Homo sapiens: one gene and its partners. The protein of the gene in region 2 interacts with the protein of the main gene of each other region in a pairwise test. Each region holds a gene or a part of one and is shown on either strand. Other genes may lie near its edges. The genes, in order: ZNF317, RBM10, ZNF473, RBM12B, CBLL1, TBC1D22B and ZFP64.

The links.
Region 1: the proteins of RBM10 (region 2) and ZNF317 interact in binary tests that used the Homo sapiens proteins (3 or more experiments, as listed by UniProt).
Region 3: the proteins of RBM10 (region 2) and ZNF473 interact in binary tests that used the Homo sapiens proteins (3 or more experiments, as listed by UniProt).
Region 4: the proteins of RBM10 (region 2) and RBM12B interact in a two-hybrid assay, tested with the Homo sapiens proteins (3 studies listed by BioGRID).
Region 5: the proteins of RBM10 (region 2) and CBLL1 interact in binary tests that used the Homo sapiens proteins (3 or more experiments, as listed by UniProt).
Region 6: the proteins of RBM10 (region 2) and TBC1D22B interact in binary tests that used the Homo sapiens proteins (3 or more experiments, as listed by UniProt).
Region 7: the proteins of RBM10 (region 2) and ZFP64 interact in binary tests that used the Homo sapiens proteins (3 or more experiments, as listed by UniProt).

What each region holds. Positions count from the first base shown.
Region 1 is NC_000019.10:9,146,897-9,150,396, reverse strand, and holds part of ZNF317 (zinc finger protein 317), read right to left. Parts: intron 1-3,500. UniProt on the Homo sapiens protein: May function as a transcription factor. May play an important role in erythroid maturation and lymphoid proliferation.
Region 2 is NC_000023.11:47,179,721-47,183,220, forward strand, and holds part of RBM10 (RNA-binding protein 10), read left to right. Parts: exon of another isoform or gene 1-61; intron 62-159; coding exon 160-320; intron 321-491; coding exon 492-589; intron 590-698; coding exon 699-786; intron 787-1,494; coding exon 1,495-1,681; intron 1,682-1,786; coding exon 1,787-1,926; intron 1,927-2,028; coding exon 2,029-2,146; intron 2,147-2,230; coding exon 2,231-2,322; intron 2,323-2,441; coding exon 2,442-2,606; intron 2,607-3,500. UniProt on the Homo sapiens protein: Binds to ssRNA containing the consensus sequence 5'-AGGUAA-3'. May be involved in post-transcriptional processing, most probably in mRNA splicing. Binds to RNA homopolymers, with a preference for poly(G) and poly(U) and little for poly(A).
Region 3 is NC_000019.10:50,032,505-50,036,004, forward strand, and holds part of ZNF473 (zinc finger protein 473), read left to right. Parts: intron 1-3,500. UniProt on the Homo sapiens protein: Involved in histone 3'-end pre-mRNA processing by associating with U7 snRNP and interacting with SLBP/pre-mRNA complex. Increases histone 3'-end pre-mRNA processing but has no effect on U7 snRNP levels, when overexpressed.
Region 4 is NC_000008.11:93,734,510-93,738,009, forward strand, and holds part of RBM12B (RNA-binding protein 12B), read right to left. Parts: exon of another isoform or gene 2,847-3,500; 5' UTR 2,798-2,846; exon of another isoform or gene 1,930-2,797; 5' UTR 1,902-1,929; coding exon 1-1,901.
Region 5 is NC_000007.14:107,757,642-107,761,141, reverse strand, and holds part of CBLL1 (E3 ubiquitin-protein ligase Hakai), read right to left. Parts: intron 3,000-3,500; coding exon 1,964-2,999; 3' UTR 1-1,963. UniProt on the Homo sapiens protein: E3 ubiquitin-protein ligase that mediates ubiquitination of several tyrosine-phosphorylated Src substrates, including CDH1, CTTN and DOK1. Targets CDH1 for endocytosis and degradation.
Region 6 is NC_000006.12:37,281,772-37,285,271, reverse strand, and holds part of TBC1D22B (TBC1 domain family member 22B), read right to left. Parts: intron 3,088-3,500; coding exon 2,908-3,087; intron 2,391-2,907; coding exon 2,320-2,390; exon of another isoform or gene 2,259-2,319; intron 937-2,258; coding exon 808-936; intron 1-807. UniProt on the Homo sapiens protein: May act as a GTPase-activating protein for Rab family protein(s).
Region 7 is NC_000020.11:52,181,780-52,185,279, reverse strand, and holds part of ZFP64 (zinc finger protein 64), read left to right. Parts: intron 1-3,500. UniProt on the Homo sapiens protein: May be involved in the regulation of mesenchymal cell differentiation through transactivation of NOTCH1 target genes.

The DNA of each region.
Region 1 (3,500 bases), on a different chromosome or scaffold from region 2:
CAAAACTCAGTTTTCTCATCTGGAAACTGAAGACTTTAACACTGGGTTATGTATGGAACTCTATAGGCTCAGTAAACAAACATTCACTCTAAAATGCCATTATCATTAAAATAAAATGACCACTGACGATTTCACAATTACTTAACAGAATTGTTCATTTATAGTGGGTGCCACTCTCCGCTCCCTGGCACCTGCCCCACCCAGAATGACTCAGAGTGAGTGGCAGCCAGGTGGCTACTTAGTATCCCTACTGCAACAGCCAACAGGATCCCACATTAAACACCTACAACTGTGCTGCCACCAGCCTCCCCACGTTGATGGCAGCTCCAGCCTCCCAGGGGCTCAAGTCAAAAGCCTTGCTCGTCATCACCTTCAACTCTCCTCTTTCTTTTCCATAAACCACACCTGCATCACCAGCAAATCCTGCCAGCCTTAACTTTAAAACTTAATACAAAAATCTGGTTGCTTCTCACCACCTACACTGCTACTGCCTTGGCATAAGGCATCGCTTCTCTTCTAGAACATTCCAACTGCTTCCTAACTGGTCTCCCAGCTGCTGTCCCTGACTTCCCTTAGCTTCCATGACAGCCGTAACTTTATGGGTAAAATGAAGATCACACCGCTCCTCTGTTCAAGATCCTCTGATGGTGTCCCATCTCACTCAGACCAAGGGCCCAGGTCCCTGCCGCCTCACCCACAACTCGCTCTGCCACTGGTCCCTCACCCAAGCCACAGAAGCCTCACTGCTGTGCATCAGGCCCCGCCAGCCATGCTCCCACCTCAGGGTCTGTGCACCTGCTGCTCCTCTGCTTGAAATGTTTCCCCCACATTCTCAGTGTGCCTGGCCCCCTCTCATCCTTCAGATCTTTATTCAACTTTACCTGTCCTGATCTGGCATTCACTGGCCACTCTTTTCTTTTCTTTTGAGATGGAGTCTCGCTCTGTCACCCAGGCTGGAGTGCAGTAGTGTGATCTCAGCTCACTGCAACCTGCGCCTCCCGGGTTCAAGTGATTCTCCCGCCTCAGGCTCCCAAGTAGCTGGGACTATAGGTGTGCCACTGTGTCCGGCTAATTTTTGTACTTTTAGTAGAGACAGGGTTTCACCATGTTGGCCAGGCTGGTCCTGAGCTCCTGACCTCAGCTGATCCACCCGCCTTGGCCACTTTTTAAAATGCAAACCCCTGCTTCTTTCAATCCCAATTCTCCACTCCTTTTCTTTTTCCCTAAAGCACTAATTTCCAAGTAATGTTCTGTGTAAGATTAGGCTCTATTTTTTACTGCAAAAACAGACAAACCCAAATCTCAATGACTCAATAAAATGGAAAGTTTACGCCTTGCTCATGTCACTTGTTCAACCCAGGCTGATGTCAAAAGTTTTCCTGTTGTTCAAGGATGCCACTTGTCTCTGAACCAACTGATACCCTTGGCCATGTTGGTCATAGATGATGAGCAGGAAGCTGGACAACTATGCATTCTGTCGTCTATATTTTGACCCTGAAGCACTTGCAGCCCATTGGCCAGAACTAGTCACATGCCCCTGCCAGCTCCAAGGATCCTGGGAAATGTAGGACAGGACACAGAACACCGGGTAAGCATTATTATCTCTCTGCTGTCTCCTCCATGCACACTATGTAGTTTACTTGTTTTGATTTCCTGTATGCCCAACTAGAAAATACATTCCAGGTGAGTAGAGACTTTTTACTTTGATGATATTTCATTCACCATTCCAGTGCCTGATATAAATAAGACAATAAGTAGGGAATGAAAGAATGAATGGATGATGAGCAAGCTGATCTACATTTGCCTTCATACTGAGACAGCCACCCAGACCTTGGGAGACCATAAAGGAGGGGCCTATGGAATGTAGGGGGTCTGGGATCTCCTCAGAAGGTCCTGTGAAATTAAACAGTAATCCAGGTACTAGGACACAGCCCTATGGCTTAGCCCAACACCCTGGGGCCAACATCCACCACCACCCTCCATGAAGGACAAAGTGTCCAGAGGGCTGGAGCTTAGAGAGCGCACCCACATCAATTCAGTCTGTGGAACCTTGTCGATGTTTTGCAACGATGCAAACCAGAGCTCAGAGTGGAGCTTCTGGCCAAGTTCTCACCTGAGTGATTCTATCACTTTCAGGGGTTGTCAGTGCTGGGTGATGGTGTATTAGTCCATTCTCGCACTGCTATAAAGAAATACCTGAGACTGGGTAATTTATAAGAAAAGAGGTTTAATTGGCTCACAGTTCTGTAGGCTCTACAGGAAGCACAGTGCTATCTGCTTCTGGGGAGGCCTCAGGAAGCTTCCAATCATAGCAGAAGGCAAAAGGGAAGCAGGCAAAGCATATGGTGAAGCAGGAGCAAGACAGCAGGGTTGGGAGGAGGTGCCACACACGTGTAAATGACCGGATCTCAGGAGAACTCACCCGCCATCACGAGGACAGTGCCAAGGGGGATGGTGCTAAGCCATTCATGAGAAATCTGCCCCCCTGATCCAATCGCCCCCCACCAGGCCCCACCTCCAATATTGGGAATTACATTTCCATATGAGATTTGGAGGGGGGGAGGGGGCGGATACACATCCAAACTGTATCAGAGAGTCTCAAAGAACTGGTGGCCATGAATACAAATAAAGCAGGAAGATTTCAGCATCTAAGCGACCCCAGCAGGATGTGGAGCAGGGTGTCTAGAACAGCTGTAGGATCTATGAACTCAGAGACGTTCTGCCCCGTTTCTACATGATACATGAAACAAAACCAGGATCAGCCGGGCGTGGTGGCTCACGCCTGTAATCCCAGCACTTTGGGAGGCTGAGGCAGGCGGATCATGAGGTCAGGAGATTGAGACCATCCTGTGAATGGTGAAACCCCATCTCTACTAAAAATACAAAAAATTAGCCGGGCGCGGTGGCGGGCGCCTGTAGTCCCAGCTACTCAGGAGGCTGAGGCAGGAGAATGGTGTGAAACCCAGGAGGCAGAGCTTGCAGTGAGCTGAGACTGTGCCACTGCACTCCAGCCTGGGCGACAGAGCGAGACTCCATCTCAAAAAAAAAAAAAAAAAAAAAAAAAAACCAGTGTCATTGGAATGCTGTCACCATGGATGAGTTAGAACGGACAGGTTAATTTTTCAGAGCTGTTGGGGTTGCTTAATTTCTCTTTTAATTTTCTTTACAGCATGGTGAAAGCAGTTCTATTTTTCTATTTCTACACATCTTACTCTATTCTCATTGGGATCTGTTTTTCTCCTCACCAGGGCCAGGACTGGGATGAGGCAACCAAGGCTGCTAGACAAGAGTGTGGTATTTAAGGAAGCACTTCTGGTGTCAGACAAGCACAAGGTTGGCTCAGAGCGAGTGGCTCCCTGGCTCTGCACTCACAAACCTCACCCTTGCTCCAGCCCTGCTCCTCAGTTTTAGAAGATCTGCCTCCTCCATCAAGTTTGTGGTCCAAAACAAATGTTGCCCAAAACTGTTCCATTATGAGCTTTCTCAGGACCATAATTCTC
Region 2 (3,500 bases):
CGCCAAGCAGAGTTGATCCTGGAGGAAGCAGTGAGGGAAGCGGCAGTTGCAAAGGCACGGAGTGAGTGGGGGCAGAGGAAAGGGAGCAGTGGGGGCATTGAAGGGCAGGGCTGGCAAGAGTGCCAGGGGTGTCCTCTAACATTGGGCCCCTTCCCACAGCCATCATTTTGCGCAACCTGAACCCACACAGCACCATGGATTCCATCCTGGGGGCCCTGGCACCCTACGCGGTGCTGTCCTCCTCCAACGTGCGCGTCATAAAGGACAAGCAGACCCAACTGAACCGCGGCTTTGCCTTCATCCAGCTCTCCACCATCGTGGTGAGGGCGGCACAGTTGGGGGCCGGGCAGCCAGGGTCCCGGCCCCCGGGGTGGAGACGAGGGTCCTTTTCCCCAGCCTCCCACCGCGGCTGCCAGCCTGGAAATCGGGCAATGGAGCCGGGGGCCTCCCCGGGCCTGACCCTTCTGTCCCTGCCTCCCCTCCTCCCACAGGAGGCAGCCCAGCTGCTGCAGATCCTGCAGGCCCTGCACCCACCACTCACTATCGACGGCAAGACCATCAATGTTGAGTTTGCCAAGGGTTCTAAGAGGTCAGGGCCCCACCTGTGTGCCTTCCCACCCTTCCCCTCCCCACCCTCCCACTCCCCCCTACCGCTTGGGGCCTCCTATCTCACTCCCAGTCTCTAACATCCTCCTCAGGGACATGGCCTCCAATGAAGGCAGTCGCATCAGTGCTGCCTCTGTGGCCAGCACTGCCATTGCTGCGGCCCAGTGGGCCATCTCACAGGTACTCAGACCCCTTGTGCCTCCCAGCGTCCTGAGACCTGGGCTTTCTCAACCCTCCTGCACCCTCTCTGAAGCAGGAAGGCTGGCTTGCTATCCATGGATGCAAAACCCTCTCCCAGTAGCTGGCATGGCTATTCTACCTTGCTCCTGGCTCTCTAGACCCCCTGGGACATTCCCCTTCATCATCACCGCAGCTTTCTTCCCAATTGCCTCCCATGCGCTCATGTACGACGCCATTGTGCCTGGCATTCTGTGCTGTTTGGTGGGGTTTTTATTGTCCTGAATAGGTATGATATACACATATCCTTATATGTAATATATACATATATGATATACACGTATCATATGTTCCTGAATAAAAATAACGTATAAGTGGTTGAGAGAAAATTGGGAGAAGAGAATAAAGAAGTAAGAAGATGGTGTCTTCCTTGGCCTGACACCCAACACACACGCCACACACAGCAGAATCAGCAGAATCAGCCCTGGAACATTTTGGCGTTCATCTGTTTTTCTGTCTTGTGTTTGCCACTGGCCTATTTGTTCTCTTGTGGCCAGGCAACCCTCGCTTTCCACTTGTCTTAAGGCTGCATGCTTTGTCTGTCAGGTAGAAATACTAGCCCCACGTGTGGGACAGATGCTTCTAGCAGGTTCCCCACCCCCCACCCCCACACCTTCCTGTTCTAATGAACCCCTCCCACCTGCCCTTCAGGCCTCCCAAGGTGGGGAGGGTACCTGGGCCACCTCCGAGGAGCCGCCGGTCGACTACAGCTACTACCAACAGGATGAGGGCTATGGCAACAGCCAGGGCACAGAGTCTTCCCTCTATGCCCATGGCTACCTCAAGGGCACCAAGGGCCCTGGCATCACTGGAACCAAAGGGGATCCCACTGGAGCAGGTGAGCCCCAGCATCTCTCTCTGCAGCTGTGGTGGGGGCCAGCAGGCATAAAGTCCCCGGCCCCATTATTCACAGGCATTGTCCCTGCCCTGTCCCTCCTTACAGGTCCCGAGGCCTCCCTAGAGCCTGGGGCCGACTCTGTGTCGATGCAGGCTTTCTCTCGCGCCCAGCCTGGTGCTGCTCCTGGCATCTACCAACAATCAGCCGAGGCGAGCAGTAGCCAGGGCACTGCTGCCAACAGCCAGGTGAGTGAGCCCTGTGGGTATGTATCCCGGGGAGGCAGGCAGGCGGCAGGGGTGGCATGGGCAGACACTGAGCCCTGTTCTCCTGTCTGGCCCCATGACCAGTCGTATACCATCATGTCACCCGCTGTGCTCAAATCTGAGCTCCAGAGCCCTACCCATCCTAGTTCTGCTCTCCCACCGGCTACCAGCCCCACTGCCCAGGAATCCTACAGCCAGTACCGTGAGTAGCCACAGCCTGTGGGTAGGGGTGGGGAGTTCTTAATAAAGCAGGGAATAGTGTGACCCCGTTCCCCTCACCCCCTAGCTGTTCCCGACGTCTCTACCTACCAGTACGATGAGACCTCCGGCTACTACTATGACCCCCAGACCGGCCTCTACTATGACCCCAACTCCCAGGTAATAGGGCAGCCCAGGGAGGGATGGGATCGGGTCAGGTCGCGTCAGGAACAGCTAGCCCTGCAGGTTCCCTTCACAAGGTCTTCCCTCACATCCCCTCTTCCCTCCTCCTCCCTCAGTATTACTACAATGCTCAGAGCCAGCAGTACCTGTACTGGGATGGGGAGAGGCGGACCTATGTTCCCGCCCTGGAGCAGTCGGCCGACGGACATAAGGAGACAGGGGCACCCTCGAAGGAGGGCAAAGAGAAGAAGGAGAAGCACAAGACCAAGACAGCTCAACAGGTGAACACCAGGGTCCAGCAGTCACTGGCTGGCTGTGTGGTGTCTTCCAGCAACGGCACTCTGTCAGCTCTTGCCCTCTCCTGCCAAGGGAGATGGCGGGCAGGTGTGGATGTGGGCAGTGACTGCTTAGCAGACCATGCTCTTGCCCCAGCTCTGCTCTTTGCTGAATGGCCTTGAGCCAGAGCAGTCTCCTCAGTGTGTGGCAGGGTTGCCCAACTCCAGGAGGTGGCTTGTGCCATCCGAGTGAGCCCTGTCAGGTGTCTTCTGTCCCATGGTGGGGACCCTCACATTCTGCTGGTGAATATACATGTATGCCAGAGAAATTCTCACAGGCCATAAGGGGGTGGGCAGGAAAAAAGCCCTGCAATGTTTTGTGGGAGTGGGCAGATGGAGGGCACCTCAGTGTCTCTCTGTGGAGAAAGGGTGTGACACTGTGAGCGTAGCGTTTACAAGCAAGCACTAAGTGTTACCTTAGCAACCTGATGAATTCTAAAAATGGTGCTGTGCTGGGGGGAACATGGAAATATAGAATGTGGCATTGTGTCATGCATATAAAGTTATACACAAATAAACATTCCTATGCATTTTTAAATGATAAAATGGAAATGCACAACAAATGTGACAGCGTGGGTGTATGTCAGGGGAAGAGGAGTGTCTTCATCCATTTGCTGCTCCATAACAATACCACAGACTGGGTAATTTATAAGGAAAAGAGATTGATTTGGCTCACAGTTCTGTAGGCAGGGAAGCCCAGTGGTGTTGGCATCTGGTGAGGGCCTTCTTGCCGCATCATAACATGGCAAAGGGCAAGAGAGCATGCATGAGAGCAAGAGAAAATTGGGCCAAACTCCCCCTTTTTATCTGGAACCCACTCAGTGATGGCATTAAATGGAG
Region 3 (3,500 bases), on a different chromosome or scaffold from region 2:
TGCTTTGCCTCATTCAACAAGTATTTACTCTGTGCCTGTCATGAGTGGGCTTTGTTGTAAGTCTGGACTAGGGAAACGGTTTAGGTGGTTCCTGCCCTCATGAAGCTTACTTTATTGCGGGTGACAGTGTATGAGCTTGCTAGGGCTGCTGTAACAAAGTACCACACACTGGGTGGCTGAAAACAACAGAAATTGGTGGTCTCCCAGTCTTGGAGGCCAGAAGTCTAAGATCAGGGTGTTGGCAGGGCTGGATCCTTCTGAGGCTGTGAGCCAGGCCTCTCCCCTGTGTTCTGGCAGATGGTGGCCAGCTTTGGTGTTCCTCGGCCTGGAGAGGCATCACCTCAATCTCTGCCTTCATCTTCACAGGATGTCCTCCCTGTATCTTCACATTGTCTTCCCTCAGCCTGTGTTTGTCTTTGTGTCCCCATTTCTCCTTTTTATAACAACTTCAGTCGTTTTGGATTAGGACCCACCCTGATGACCTCATCTCAGCTTGATCACCTCTGTAAAGACCCCATTTCCAAATAAGGGCAAATTCTGAGGTACTGGGGGTTAGAACTTCATTGTATCTTTTTAGAGGGTTACAGTTCAACCCATACCACACAGTAAAATGCATTAAGTAAATCCCATAGAATGCAGGCAGTATTAAGGATTATGGAGGAAAGGGATAGGGAGGCCCAGGGTAGATTTGCTGTTTTATACAGAGGGGTGGGAGAAGGCTTCATGGAGAAGAGGCATTTCAGCAGAGAACTGAGGGACACAATCTTGGCTCTAAGATGGGGTCTGGCAGGTGTGTTCAGGGAGCTGCAAGGAAGCTGGTGTGGCTGGAGCAGAGTGGATGAGCAGGAAAGGGGGAGAAGGTGAGCCCTGAGTGGCAGCTGGGGCCAGATCTTTAGGGCCCTGGAGATCATTGTATGGTCTCTGTCTTTAAATATGGTGAATCCGGAGGCCGTTGGAGGGTTTGGAGCAGAGGAGGGACAGGATTTGTTGTAAGCGGAAACAGGATCCCCCTTGCTCGTCCACCCAATTCCTGCTTAGCATCACCACTGGGACGACTGTTTCAGGGTCTTACTGCTGCTGTAACAAATAATACAAACTTGTGGGCTTAAAAACAACACAAATTTATTCTTTTACAGTTCTTCAGGTCTGAATCCCAAAATGATCTCACGGGGCTCAAACCAAGGTGTCAGCAGGGTGCGTTCCTTCTGGAGGCCCTAGGGAAGAATTCAGTCCTTGCCTCTCCCAGCTTCTGGAGGCTGCCTATATTCATTGGCTCCTGGCCGCATCACTCTAATCTCTGCTTCTGTCATGGCATCACCTCTTTTCTCCTGTGATTCCTTGTCTCCCTCTTATTAGGATCCTTGTGATGACATTTAGGACCAACCCAGATAATCTAGGATAATCTCCCCATTTCCAGATTCTTAATCACAGCTGCAAAGTCCCTTTCGCCATGTAAGATAATATTCATGGGTTCTGGGAATTAAGACAGGGACATCTTTGTGTGGGGTGGCGGCATTATTCGGCCATGACAATCTACAGGATATCTCAAACTTTACATGTCCCAAACCAAACTCAGACTCTGTCCTGAAAGCTGCTTCTCCTATGTCTCAGTAAGTGGCAACTTTGTCCTTCCAGCTGTTCAGGCTAAAAACGTAGAGCCATCCCAGGGTCTTCTGTCTTTCACACCCTCCATGTTATTCGTCAGGAAACCTTGTCAGCACCGTTATCTGAATATCTGGAATCTCACCACTTCTCACCCCCTCCATTGCTGCCACCATTTCTCACCTGGATTATCAAACTGGCCTTTTTCCTTTGACTCCCTGCTTCTGCCCTTCTCACCTTCTGTCTTTTCCCACGAAGCAGCAAGAGGAGGATGCTGTTTAGTATATGCCTAATTTAAAAAAGTTTTTTTATTGTAAAATCACAGGTGCAGAAATGCACACACATCAAATGCATGACCTAATGAAGGCGAACGCCACCTAGATCAAGAGTGAGAATTTTTTTTGCCATCCACCCCAGAAGTCCTTCGTGGGCTCTGTCATAGCCCTCTCGCATCCCCAATAAGTAACCTGATTTTTATGATTACCACTTGCTTTATTACTCAAATGCACAATCCCTTGCCCCTTCTTGTTTTTTAATGTCTTCTGTGTCTCTTAATCTTTGGGTTCCTCCTCCATCCCCTTCTGTTCTCAGCTGTTAGTTAGAGAACAGTTATTCGGTCCTTTGAGGAACTGGCATGGTTCGACCTGTAGAATTCCTCAGTCTGTTTTCTCTGGTTCCATCCTTGTGGTGCAGTTGAGTTTATTCCCAGTTGGCAGCTAGGTCCAGAGGCTTGATTAGACTCATGGTCAATCCTTTTACCAAGAATCTCTTGTGCCCCCTGTTTGTGGTCCTGGCAGATAGTGATGCTTTCTGCCTTATCACCTGTTCATTCATCAGGGCTTGCAAAATGGCGCTATCATTTCTTTTCATGTATTAGTTGGAACACTTTACAAGACATCCTTTGGCTGGGCATGGTGGCTCATGCCTGTAATCCCAGAACTTTGGAAGGCTGAGGTGGGCAAATTGCTTGAGCTCAGGAGTTCAAGATCAGCCTGGGCAACGTGGTGAAACCCCATCTCTACAAAAAATTTAAAAATTAGCCAGGTGTGGTGGTGTGCACCTGTAGTCCCAGCTACTCAGGAGGCTGAGGTGAGAGTATCACAGGAGCCCAAGAAGGTTGAGGCTACAGTGAGCTGTGATAGCACCACTGCACTCCAGCCTGGGTGACAGTGAGACCCTATCTCAAAAAAAAAAAAATTTATCTACTATTTGTCTAGTCGACGGTAGAGTTCATATAGGACAGGTAGGGTAAATGCTTGACTCTCCTTTTATTTGCTAGTTTTCACTATAAGGAATTGGTTTCCTTCTGTCATGTCATCCTTCAGAGGTGACCAGTTCTTTCATACGTGTGTGTGTGTGTGTGTGTGTGTGTGTGTGTGTGTGTTTGGCTGTTCTTAAGAGTTTTACAAAGCATTTTCATTGTAATTCAATGTAACACACCCAGGTTAAATCTCATAAGGACAGGAACTGGCTGCCCCCTTTTTTCCTGTACCTAGCACAGGGGCTGGCTCGTAGTAGGTGCTTGGTCATCATTGGACAGATAAGTAGACAACAAGCACCACTTATTTAGCAGCTTCTTAGTGAGTTGGGTCTCTGCTGAGCCCTGTGTAGGCATCAGCTCACTTCATCCTATAGCAGCCTTATTTTAGAGAAGAGGCAGGCTGAGCATTAGAGAGGTGGACTAACAAGGTCCCACAGTTAATAGATAGTAGAACTAGAATTTGAACTGGGACCTGTCTGACTCTAAAGCTGAGCCTCTAACAGGTCAGCCTCCTGGGGATTGTGTAGCAGATGGGAGCTCGTGCCACCCCACCACCTACTCACCGTGTGCTGTGGTTGGAATGTTTGTCCCCTTTGAAACTCTTTTTTTTTTGAGAGGGAGACTCTGTTTTCTAGGC
Region 4 (3,500 bases), on a different chromosome or scaffold from region 2:
TCCTCCTCCAGTGGCCGCCTCCAGTCCTCCTCAAGGGGCCTCCTCCAGTCCTCCTCCCTAGGGTGCCTGAAGTCATCCTCCGGAGGGCGCCTGAAATCTTCCTCCCAAGGGCGCCTGAAGTCCTCCTCAGAAGGCCGCCTGAAGTCTTCCTCCCTAGGTCGCCTGAAGTCCTCTGGGGAGTGCCTGAAGTCCTCCGGGGGGAACCTAAAGTCCTCTGAGGAGTGTCGGAAGTCTTCTGGAGGGTGCCTGTCAGGCTGCCGGAAATCCCTCTGGGGATGCTTGAAGTTATCCAGTTGCCTCAAGTCCTCTAGCTGATGTCTAAAGTTTTCAAAAGCACCAACTGAGTATATTGGTGGGTCTTTTGAGTCAAATAAATGGGAATGGTCACCTCGCTCACGTGACTGTGAGCGAGCTTGCATTTTTTCACTGGACATCACAGAAAAATTTACACCAAACTCCTGTATTTGTGCCTCAGATATAAGTCTTAATAACACCTCTGTCCCTAGGAATCTTCGTCGGTTTAAACGTTCAGCTTTCATGGCCTGTTCTTCTGATTTAAATTTCACTAATGCTTCTCCCAGACCAACACCTTTGTCATCATAAAGCAAGTAAATGTCATCCTCAGCAAGAAGAAAGTCTGCAAAGAACTTCTGCACTTCAACTTTTGTAACATCAAATGGAAAATTTCTTATATAGATGCACAGTTTCTGGCCAGAGTTACCTTCTTGAGAGTATTTTTGTGAAACATGTCCGGGCCTATCTCTCTCTAGTGACCCTGATCTCTTCTTTTCATAACGTGCAATGAACTTCAGCATTTGTTTTCTAGAAATTGGATCAATATGAACTGGACGATATTGTAAAACAGTCTTATGTAAACTCAGAGCGGTATTATAGTCTTTCAGAGTCTTGAACATCACAAAGGCATATCTTGTTCTATTTTCATCTTTATATAAAAACCTAATCTGTTCATCAGTCAGATCAGTACCTCTAAAGAAATTTCTTAAATCTCTTTCGTCAATACTGAGGGACAGATTTTTTAAGTGAACATAAAATCCAAGAGGGGAACGAGAACGTGTTCTTCTGGGAGATTTTGAATGAGACCGTTTTCGAAAATGTCTATCATTAATTCCTCTTGGTGGAGAATGTTCTTCAGATCTCCTAAGAACGTCACCCTCCTTAACTGCATTACCACCAAACTCAATCCACTGTTGTTCTGATCCTTGCATTACTTCTATAAATCTTGAACCCATAAAACTTCTATGACATTTAAGACCTCCTGAAGCATCAACACATGAAGCAAATTTTACTATGGCATCACCATTATTTCGGCCATCATGATGTTTTAAGAAAATTACTCCATCCACGCACAAACCAGAGAAAAAGACACGTACATCATCTTCATTTACTAGGTAAGGCAAACCTCGTAGAAACAAGTAAGGATTCTCGGCCTTCAATGGCCTTGTCTTTCTTGGCCTTAAATTACCATGTCCTGTACCATTAGTATGAAACCCAGCATCTTGATTAATTGAAGAGCCATATCCAGAATTACTTGCTTCTTCCTTAACAGACTCAATAAAATTAGACAGGCTGTCAACCCCTGATGTCCCAGATCCTGGACGCCCTCTTCCTACACGATCAGTTCTTTTCATTTCTATAGTCTTCTGCATTTCTGCCTTGCTACTAAGAAAGAGCTCTACAGATGAATCCTTGATAAACCCTCCTGAACGACTTATGGCACGTCTTGCATCTTCATCTGTTGCAAAAATAATAAAAGCCTCCCCAATTTCCCCTCCAATTATATGCACTCCTCCATCAGGAATAGTCAATCCCGTGAAGAAGTGACGAATATCCACAGGCCCCGCAATAAAAGGAAGCCCCAGTAAACGGATGACTACAGCCATGCTGAGCTCAAACCACAGCAATAATGACCTGCAGACAAAAAGGTACACATAATAGCAAGTCTTATTTTTGAAGTACCTTAGCCCAAACTAAGCTTAATAATTACCTGGTTCCTGCTTTCTTCAACATTTATAAATGAAAACAAGATACAAGTTCACAAAAATACTGATCATATCTAATTATTAAAGAAAACAAGGGATAAACTTTCTCCCATCTAAAAATACAAATAAACCAACTACCTTGAAGAAACATTTCGTATCACCTATTCTATACAATAGGAACATCAAAAATATCAAATCTTCCTTTGTAAGTCTGCCAAATGCTGCTTCACAAGACCAAACTACTTTCAGACTCATTTAGAATCTTATCTTCTACTGAAACATGAGAGCTTTGTAGATTATTTTATCAACTGCAATGAATTTTACATATTTAGAAAAGTCATCTATGGTTAGTATATAATTTCTGCTCATGATAATAAATTGCCTACCACTGGCCAGACACAGAGAACAAAAGCCAGGGCCAGCATGATAGCTCATGCCTGTAATTCCAGGCTTTGCAAGGCCAAGGCAAGAGGATCGCTTGAGGCCAGGAGTTCAAGACCAGCCTTGGCAACAGAGCGAGAGCCCGTCTCTAAAAAGAAAAAATTAGCCGGGCATGGTGGCATGCACCTGTAGTCCCAGCTACTCAGGAGGCTGAGGCAGGAAGACTGCCTGAGCCCAATTTGAAATTTTCAGGATACAATGGGCTGCAACTGTGCCATTGCACTCCAGCCTGGAGGACAGAGTGAGGCCCTGTCTTTTTAAAAAAAAAAGAACAGAAGCCATGGATACCTAGATGTACTATTCTACTTCACATGTTTTTTGTTGAGCCTCAAAGCCTTAAACTCTGGATATCTTACCTTTTTTAAAATTTCTTGGAGACCTGTTAACTCTGTAAAAGCAACTTAACTGTGGAAAGAAAATGAAATATAATTAATCCTTGAACCCTGTAATTTATCTTAAACAACGCCAGAGTAGGATATCCATTTCAGAATTACCTATCAAAAGTGAAGCAGAATAAGGAACCACAATTACGGGTGTTACAAAATGGTCTTTTGTTCCAAGGGGAAATTAATCATCCTTCTGCAAAAAGGAGATACAATATCCAAATAGACATATAAAAATTATTTAAAAATTTGAAACTTGCCGAAAATTTAACAACTGCTCTTGATTGGAAGTAGCACGAAGAAAGGAGTGATGGAAATGTTACATATTTTGAATGCAGCAGTAGTTACATGGGTGTATAAATTTATCAAGGTTTACTGAATTCTATCCTTAGGGTCTATACATTTTGCTGTACACAAGTTTTACATCTACTTCAAAAAACTGTTCTACAAGTAAAATCTCAATACCCAAAGTTCAAAAAAAAAAAAAAAAAAAAAAGAACTTCAATCATTTTGCCACATGAAAATCCAAAAATCTAGTACATATTTATATCCAACTCTCGTGCTGTTCTCCTCCCTTTCAAAACATAAGACCAAATCAAATTAAGGCAACCATTCAAAATTACACAATAAATGAATAAAACAGCAAAGCCTGAAATTCAAAAATCAATTTTTAAAA
Region 5 (3,500 bases), on a different chromosome or scaffold from region 2:
AAGAATGGTTTGGATTTTTAACAGTAATATTTTAATAGCTCCTAAACAGGGGGATGAAAAGGAATCAAGTTTGCACCAGTCCAAGTACCTACAGTAATATGATAGAAGCACTCACCACCATTTCACACTATCACTCCCATGCTTTTAATAACAAGCATTTCTCACTAGAAATATTGCATTAACACTGGACTTTCAAACTGCTAAATGTAGAAAATCACTTGCCTGACTTAAAACAAAAAAGTTTATTAGTTATTTTTGGCCAGTCAAGGTTGAAACGGCCATTTTGTTATTTCTAACTTCTGCTCTAGGGTTCAGAAATGATTTTGCATCTGATCATTCAAGATGAGAATTTGTTTCACCTGTACCTGACAGAATAAAATGGTAAATTAGCAATCAGATCACCCTTTGTCAAAAGAAGTATGTTCTAAATGTATACACTACAAACTATCTAATAAATGATATCTGCATACTACATATTTCATGTTTTATTATGCACCATTTTAGTGGGGAGGAAAAACTTCACAGGGATTTATTCAAAGGATATAAATAATATCCTAAGAATGTTGATTTATACATATGAGTTCTGTATAAACTGTTAAGTGGTCATCTTAGCTAAACTATAACAAGCCCCTATAATGTAAAAGCTGACTCGAAAGGCACCATGTAAAGCACTGAAATCCACAATTTAGCTGTTATTTCCTCTTCTCCAATACAAAATTATCTGGTAGTCTTCACTGTTGACTCCATGATAAAATGTTCCAAATTCAGACTGCTTTACCGACAAAAGGAATAGGAAATAAAAGTTTTTAAATTTCAAGTTAGAGGAAAAATCCTATCACACAGCAATGAAACCTGAGCAAATGCAAATTTGTGATTACAAGAATATGTCCTTCATTAATATATTATTCAAATTCCTCCATGGCATTCAAACTGTAGTTGAAAATCCTATAAACAAGAACCCACTTAAACACAGCATCAAACTCTACCATGAAATGAAGAATTACATAAAGCCTATTCAGCCCTATTCAGTTTAAGACAATGAACAAAACAGAACACATTTCATCTAAAGAACACCATTTAAACCCATTTAAACAGTTCTATAAAATAATGTTACTTAAGATCAGTATGTGTGGTGCATATGTGATTCCGACCATTCAGTAAAAAAGCATTAATGAGTAACAGCATTCCCCCACCAGCTTGAAGCCTGTAGAGTTGATTATTTTGGCCATCTCTTTCCAAATAATTAGTAATGTCTTTTAACATTACGAACAAATATATCTTAGTACTAGAATTCCAATGTATTTTGGTGCTCCTGAGGCTGCCTAAAAATGAAAAGGCATCCAAGTGAAGTGCATTGTATACTTACTATACCTCGAAACCTCAACATTTCAGTGCCTAAAATGTGAAATAATTCTCTATCATTTAACAGTCTGCCTTACAGCAAATTCTAGTAGATTTTTACTTTCAGGATTTTATTATAACTTTGGGAAATTAGTGGTAAAACATATGGTTTAAAAAACAGTATGTGGCTGCACTTAAATTCACATAAAAATAGCATTTTTACAACCATATTGAAATTTAATCCTTTTACACAGGTTAACAAAATGTATCACAAGAAAAACTAAACGTTGGGTTTAACAAAACAATACTTTTGAAGTAAAACAATGAAAAATTTTTTCAAATTTTTTACAAATGGTCACCTCTGGGTCAATTTACTAAACTAGGGGAACAAAGAGATGTTAAAATATAGCTGTGCTCAACTGAGCCACTTATCTGTACTACAGTATGGTACTTGAAATCAATCTTAAGGTCAAGATTTAAAACCATTTTAAGAAACAAGACCCTATGTGTTTTATACTACCTCGATAAGAGGTACTCTTCCTTCCCAAAACAGTCAAAGCTTAAAAGATTGACTACACATAAGTTTTTTTCCCCCTCATATCTTCCATTCAAAATACTATTATCATTGGTAATACGGTCTATATCTTGTCTGATCTGGATGATGTGGTCCAGGAAGTGGGGTTTGAGAAGGCGGACCCTGCAATCGTGGAGGTGGTGGTGGCCCTCTTGGTGCAGGCCATATACCAGGACTCATTCCCCCTGGTTGTGTAAATGGAGGGCTCAGAGTTCCTTGATCTTCAGTGAACTGGGGTAATGAGTTAGGATTATAATGGTGAGGAGGGGGTGCAGTTACAGGTGGACCACCATGTTGAGGTGGGGGAGGTCCTGGAGGAGGATGATTCATATAAGGTGGCATCTGGGCAATAATATGTCCAGGGGGAGGGGTTATTGGTGGTGGAGCAGAGGTCATTGGTGGAGGTGGAGCTTGGCTATATACCAAGTGAGGAGTACCTGCAGCCTGGGGAGGATGTGGCATTGGATGGCTTATTGGTGGTGGAGGAGGTGGGGGTGGTGCATAATGTTGCTGTGGAGGCATAATATGATGAGGGTGCGATACCACTGGTTGACCCTGATATTCAGGATGATGGTGAGCAGGTGCTGGGGCAGGAGGTGGTGGTTCTCTAGCACCTGAATTTGAGTCATCCTGAATAGGGACGGTTATTAAATTGCTGTGTTTTCTTGTTGAAATACGAAAGGTTTCCTGACTGACCGATCGAGGTGGAGGTGGAGCCATGGACAATTCTGCTGGAGGAGCACGAATATCCTCATGTGGCTGATTATAGTGCTCATGTGGCACATGTTGCAAAGGAGGTGGTGGCATCATGATGTGCTGCTTTGGCGGAATATGGCTCATATGGTGCTTGTCTGGTGGCATTATAAAACGCTCAGGGATTTCAGTTGGTGGTGGGGCAATAGGAGGATGAACATTTTCAAGTGAAGCACGGGTAACAGGTTTTCCAGCTCTCATATGGCGATGGTTGATATGAGCCTGTAAGTCTCTCTGAGACAAATATGTTCTCTTGCACCCTTGAACAATGCTACACATGAAGAGAGAACCTCGTGTACACTGCTCAATTCGCTGCACAGGATCACTACAGCTAAATTAGAAGGGAAAGAAATGTGATTTACTAAAAGAGAATACAAAAAATTATGTAATTTTCAAAAATATGCTTGTTTTTAAAATTTGACTGTTACATAAAACATAGCAAAAGTCCACAATTAGAAGTTACAGTTATTCTACGCAAACCTTTAATCTTCCCTACTTTGTTGTCTGTTAGCCATTAAGATAGGCATTTCTGTCAACTTCAGAACTCCTAATATCAAACGGTATGTTTCAAGAAGAGACCTCATTCTTCCCAAGGCCTAGAATTTATCCAGTTTTCTCAAACAATTGTACCTTCTGCATCCATTTGCCAAAAAACCCAGCAAGAAAAAAACCAACGGGTAGATTACTTACAATCATGGAATTCAAACTAGTATGGTATTATTGAGTGATAACTGTTTGTTGAGCAAATAATACTAAGTGGAAAACAGTAAGTAGAAGACATTGCAAGGACTACAACAAGTAACATCAGCCTCATCATTAGGGTTCTTAACAT
Region 6 (3,500 bases), on a different chromosome or scaffold from region 2:
AAAGTTCTTACTTCTGTTACCTAAGACATCACTATAGTCCATTTCAACTCAGGGATTTCCCAGTGCCCAGTCTAACTATGCAAAAGACTGTGTCAGCAGCAGCAGCAGCAGAGGCTACTTCAGTTCTTGAGGCTTGTTGTAAATAGCTGCCCACCTTCCACTTTCTGCAACCCCTGGCCTACTCTTCTCCTCCCTCCACATGTGATGTTGGGAGCAGACCTTTCCGCAGACCATGAGGACCATTATGGGCAATGACAGAAGACTCCCTGACAAGACTACTGAAAGCTACAGCTCCTACAGTCACAGATGCCAAAACAGCAGTGCAGCTGCCAGGAAGACATACTGATGTCATAGTCCAGAGGGACTGGACCACGGCTAGGTAAGCTTGTCTTTCCTCTCCATGCTCGATAACGCTTACTACTCACAGTGTGGTTGGTGGACCAGCAGCAGCAGCATTGCAAGGGAGCACATCAGAACTTCAGGCTTTACCTGAGACCTGCTAAATCAGAATCTGCATTTTCTCATAATCTCTAGGTGAGATCTTATCAAGATCCTAGGTGATTTGTATGTACATTAAAGTTTGAGAAGCAGTGCACTGACTAGTGCCAAAAAAGTCTGTCTATTTAAAATGGCTAAAATCAGAGTTGCTGAATGAAAAGAGGGGAAACAGTTTTGAGGATAAATTTAACTCCTAACCAATATACCACAGCCTGAAGACTTGGAAAGCCTGTACCCTGAGAGCACTACCATGAGACATACCTAAAGTATATGACTGGTAAGCAAAGAGGCAGCAGGTGGTGACTGTACCTGTCTGTAGGTATCCTGGTGATGTTCCTCGTTTCGAGAGTCATAATACTGTTCAATGAAGCCAAAATATTCCTCCCGCTTCCGCTGCAGGGTCAACTTCCTCCTCTCAGTGTTTGCTGGGAGATAGCCCTATAGACAAGACTGCTGGTCAGATGGGGAAAGACAATGGTTGGATAAATCCTTAATTTTTATTTTAATCTATGCAGTGGTTTGGAAACTACCAAGAAGGAAAACTGCCAAGGGTAAATCCCTTTTTGGTTCTGGCCACCCATTTTTTGCCCTCTCCTCATTCAATGAGATCCACATGTGAGCAGATGAAGCAAGGCCAGCTTTCCCAGGATTATTTACTCCCTTGGCCCTGCACTGTGCTGGAGCTTGTGCCACTGGTGAGCACTCCTCAGCTCCCAGAGCTGGCACAGTACAGCAGTGAATGTAGGTCAGTGGGAGGGAGCTGGACCCAAGTCATGGCCTCGGAGGGCTGTGTGTGTCCAGGGCCATACTTCTGAGAAATGCAGGGATATAGCAACCTCTACAGCACATCTCAGCAGTGTGCCAAGTAAGTTGGTGCCAGTTACATTCTTTTCCAGTGTAACTTTCAGAATTACCAGCTTAGGAAGCAGCTGAATGGAATCTGTGACATACAGCTACAACACTCAGACAGAACTTCTGGCAGCAGCCCCCGGCCTAGCCAAAGCTCCAGGCCAACTTTCATTCTTATCCCTGGTCTAGATCCCACTCTCATTCTTATATTTTCTGTTCCCCTTCCGTTCTCACCAAATCTACTCTGAATAGTATTCAAACTTATTAGAAGTGGCAGAGGCAATGATTGCATGGTTGCAAGAGTAGAGGTGGGGGCGAGCAGTCAGGAGACAGACCCTTCTTCTTGAAAACATTTATGTAATGCATTCTGCAGTGAGTGCCTGGAGAGTGGGGACTGTGGTTTATTCATTTTTGCATCTGCTCAAAGCATCTGGCACTATGCCTGGCAAACAGCAGGCTCTCAATAAATCCTCACTAGATGAATGAATGAATTTTACAGGCTCAGGAAACCCAAGTGTTTCTATCATAGCGGCTGGCACAGTGCTCTGTACTTGGTGAAAGCAGGACTAGTAAAGCTTCCAAGGGAGGCCAATTTATCAACTCTTCACAGATCAAAGTGGGTTTCAACTTTTGGTTATTCCGGCTGAAACAGGAGTGAAGCACAGGGAACGTTGGAGCTTACTCAAAGCAAGTGCTGGGATCACCCTATCTCACTCTATTCTTCTTCCTCGCTGTTAAGAACATGACACCATGACTATTGGTACAAGTCTGTGTACCACTACATGTGTGTGAATAAACTCTCAAGAATGTATTTCTTTATGCACAGAAATAGGACTATAGTCCCATAGTTCTGTCATATCCAGTAGGACTAGAGAAGTCTATGGAGTTAAGACCAATGTGTCCAGACTAACCTCATCAGGCAAGAAGGGCTGTGTGAGGCTCACATTTCTCTACACAGTGGGTAGAACTCACCGACAGGAGTCTCCAGGTTATAGGTCGAACCTCCCTGGGAACCCCTGGCCAGCTACACTTCCTCAGTTCATCTGTAAATAGAAAACAGCCTTGTTAGGTTAACTCTCCACAAATGCTCTAAAGCAAACCGCAACCAGCACTGCCTGATGTCTCCTTCCATCCATGTAAGACCACCACCACCACCTGCTACCCATAAGCACAGTGAAAAGCCCAAAACAGCCCCGAGCAGCTAAGTGCCAAGGACACGGCCTTGCAGTAGCAGTCCTGTCAGCTCAGAGATGAAAGTTAGAGGGGAAGGGAAAGACCAGTGGGTGTAGATTTCAGTAAGAGTCACCTTGAGATAAGGAAGACCAAAGTCAGAATAGTTGCACTAGGGTCTACAGGCCACAGAAACCAGTCCCACCTAATTTGGTCCATAATCTCTAGTAACATATGTCTGACTTAATACCTGCATGTCACTGCAATGGGCACCAGGTCAGGAGAAGCTAGAAAAGTAAAAGAAGGAAGAATAAAGAGCAGTAGCTTCCAGGTCTCTGAGAATTCCAGTCACCCAAAGCTCCTACCTTGCCTGGGCTCACAGGGACTCACCTAAGTCAGTGTTCTGGCTGGAGAGAAGTTGACGGAATTTTTCTAGGCGGGTTTTCTCCCGGACAGTCATTGGGGGGGCCCCAGAAGCGTTCTGATCCGAGATCCGGGCAACGAGGGGGATGATGGGCCGGAGAGGGAGTGATTGCTGTTTGTGGAGTGGGTTCCTCAGGCATGTATCACCTGAGATCATTTGAAAAAGAAAGAGAACGGGCTGTGTGAGGAGTATGGATTCTGAGAAGCCTTAAACCTAACCGTTCAGCATTGTGTTTCCTCCCCAAGGGTGTGGCTGCCTGTGTGCACTGTCTGAGGTGCCCAGCTGAAGGGCAGCGAGGGGCCAGAACCCAGCCACACCCCATTCACTGCCCAGAGAAAGGGCTGCATTTATATCAAACACACCAAGGCACCTTAGGTGGTAACAGAGACGCCAGATGCTGCAGCAACTTTTGAGAACTTTTTTGGTGACTCTAAAGGTGCTAACAGAGACTCCAGATGCTGCAGCAACTTTTGAGAACTTTTTTGGTGACTCTAAAGGAAAATCAAATGTTTTCTTTCTACCCTAACTTGGAACTTTTCTTGGTGCCAAATAGTGAGTT
Region 7 (3,500 bases), on a different chromosome or scaffold from region 2:
GGCCGAGGCGGGTGGATCACCTGAAGTGAGGAGTTCATGACCAGCCTTGCCAATATGGCAAAACACCTTCTCTATGAAAAATACGAAAACTAGCCCAGCGTGGTGTCACGTGCCTGTAATCCCAGCTACTCGGAAGGCTAAGGCAGGAGAATTGCTTGGACCTGGGAGGCAGAGGTTGCAGTGAGCTGAGATCGTGCCACTGCACTCCAGCCTGGGCAACAGAGTGAGACTCTGTCTCAAAAAAATAAAAATAAAAAACTTCATAAACAAATGTACAAGGATATTCATTTACAGCATGTACTATAGAGAAAGTGGAGCCTTTGTATGTATACGTCAAGAGAGAGTTAGGTATGGCCAGGTGCAGTGGCTCACACCTGTAATCCCAGCCCTTTGTGAGGGCAAGGCTGGAGGATCACTTGAGGCCAGGAGTTCAAGACCAGCCTCGTCAACATAGCAAGACCCCACCTCTACATTAAATTTTAAAAATTAGCCAGGCGTGATAGCACACACTTGTAGTCCTAGCTGCTCAGGAGGCTAAGGCAGGAGGCTCGCCTGAGCCCAGGAGTTTGAGGCTGCAGTGAGCTATGATCGTACCACTGCACTCCAGCCTGGGTGACAAATGAGACCCTGTTTCTTAAATAAAATAAAAAAGAGGGATTTAAACAAATAAATATCAAAGATTCCAACAATGGAATATGACTTAGCTTTGGAAAGGAGGAAAGTTGGATCTGTGTGTAGTCACAGAAAGATTCTCAAGGTAAGTATAAAAAAAATACATATGCCTACATATTATATGGTCTTATATTCCAGGGAAGTTTCTAGAACAGGGATGGGGCGGTAATGTAAATGAGAGAAGTTATCTTTGGGGGAGGTGTTAGAGAGTGGTGGGGACTGTGGTGAAGTAGAGAAATCACACATGCCTCATCCAAAAGTGCAGCTGTTCTTTGGATCCAGCCAGTTAGATATTTCAGTTTTTCAGAGAAGCTGAAAATGTGAAATTTTCCAAATATAAAACTTTGTTGCCAAACAATACATCTCTGAGCCTGACTGAGTCCATAAGTTTCTTCTAGCTTATTCTCAGAGAATGTTTACCCAATAGTCTGGAGCTGAAGAGTGAGGAGCATCAGACGTCAGGGCCAGGCGCAGTGGCTCACACCTGTAGTCCCAGCACTTTGGGAGACCGAGGCGGATCACTTGAGGTCAGGATTTCAAGACCAGCCTGGCCAACATGGTGAAACTCATCTCTAGTAAAAATACAAAAATTGGCCAGGCATGGTGTCACTCGCCTATAGTCCGTGCTACTTTGGAGGCCAAGGCACGAGAATCTCTTAAACCCAGGAGGCAGAGGCTGCAGTGAGAGTGCCACTGCACTCCCCACTGGGCAACAGAGTGAGTGAGATTCCATTTCAAAAAATAAAAAGGAAACCAACTTTCCCCTTATGAGGTATCTACTAGGGTGATGTTTGAATTTTTTTGGCAATAAGCAAAGTTTTGTGGGTTTTTTTCTTAATGCATCCAAAATAATGTTTCTACTGAGTTTTTTAAACAGTAGACATTTTGAAATACAATAAAACTGATCCCCTCACAAACCTTAACAAAAGTATGTTGAGATCTTCCCACTGTCTCCTGAGTTTATCTTCATTCCCATCTTAAAGGAAGTCACCAAGAAAAGGTGAAAACCAGAAAACCCTTAAAAGTGGGCCTGGTAGGACCTAATTATTTTGCACCAGGACCAAGCAAAGTTGCCTTTGGGGAAGGGACATGGCCAAGGTCCCATCGGAACTTCAGGACAGTCCTGGGACATGTGTTTTGCCCCTTATCGTAGTGGTCTTCTTCATGAGGACAGTGTTTCCTTTCTTGTCCTCGAAAACCAAAATCCCAGAACCTCTCACAGTGGATGGGAGCCATATAAAAATGGATGCCCTGCGTGTGGGAGGCTTCCAGGCCCACACTTTTTACTTGGGGCCATTGCTTCTTTCTGGGCTCTGAGCCTTCGTGGATGCTTTTTCCTTTGCCTGAAATACCTTTCCCACCTTGGCCTGGCTGATGCCAACTCAACCTCAAGGCCTTAAGTTTCATGACAATCTTCACAAAAAAGGGTCTGCATTCTTCCTGGGGACAATCCCCTTCTCTCCCCTCTATATTGCAGCAGCCATGATGAACTCCTTTCTGTTTCTGGAATGAGCCACATTTCCTCCAGGCTCAGACCTTGCCTGCATTGTTCCTTCTGCCTGGAACTGCCTTAATTCTTATGTCAGAGCTGGACTTAAAGGCATTTTCTCAAAGACCCCTTCCCTGCACGTCTCACTCTTTTCCCAGATCAGGTCATGTCCCATATTTAAATGATTAATAGAGGAATGACTTTAAGGTGTATCTCCATCACTGACCTGTAAGCCCCTCTCCTGTTCACCACTGGATCCCAGCACCAAGGCACTTATTATTTCTTGGGTGTGAACACTGCTCACATCTCATATGCATCAGTAAAGCTGACCTCACAACCAAATAGCGGCTCCCTTTTTTGTCCTCCTAGTTTTTTTGCTTGTTTCTTTGTTTTGTTTTTTGAGACAGAGTCTTGCTCTGTTGCTCAGGCTGGAGTTCAGTAGTGCAGTCATGGCTCACTGCAGCCTTGATCTTCTGTGCTCAAGCAATCCTCCCACCTCAGCCTCCCAAGTAGCTGGGACTACAGGCCTGCGCCACCATATCCAGCCAATTTTTAAATTATTTATAGAGATAGGGTTTTGCTATGTTGCACAGGCTGGTCTTGAACTCCTGGGCTGAAATGATCCTCCCATCTTGGGCTCCCAAAGTGCTGGGATTACAGGCATGAGCCACTGCACCCAGCACTTCTATTTCTTTGTTCAAAGAAGTTCACCCTCCTCTTAGCATTTACACGGCCCTGCGACCATTGGATCTTGCCATGCCGGAGTTTTGTTGACTGTCCTGAATGCTCAGGCCAGTCCTGGAGTCCTGTTTGTGCCTGGCACACAGAGCCCTCCCCTGCACAGTGCTGAAGGGAGCCACAAGCTCAGAGATAGACTGCTGGACTCGCATCCCAATCCACCACCTAACAGCCCTAGGCTGTGAGCAAATCATTTACTCTCCCTCTCACTAAACAGTCCCCATCTGTAAAAAGAGGTTATAATACCTAATCATCATTGCGTTATTGTGAGAATTCTGCGATAATCCACATAAAGGGCCTGAGATGGAGAAATTGGGTTCAATGAGCGATCGCTTTTATTAATGTAGAGTCTAATAAACAGGTGGCGAAAGGATGGTGAGATCTGCAGCTTGCGTTGTCTCCGTCTGACTCAGCTGCTCCTCCTGATGGTTCCTGCCTCTGTGCCAACTAAACAAGCAGAATTCTGCTTTCTTTTCTTTTTTACACTTATTAGATTGGTTTTCTGGGTGCAATTCCTCCTATTGTGCTTCAAGTTTCCATTGACTGGCAGTTCCCAGACCTGCCTATGGACCAAGATCCCCTGGGAGCTTGTTAAGGATAC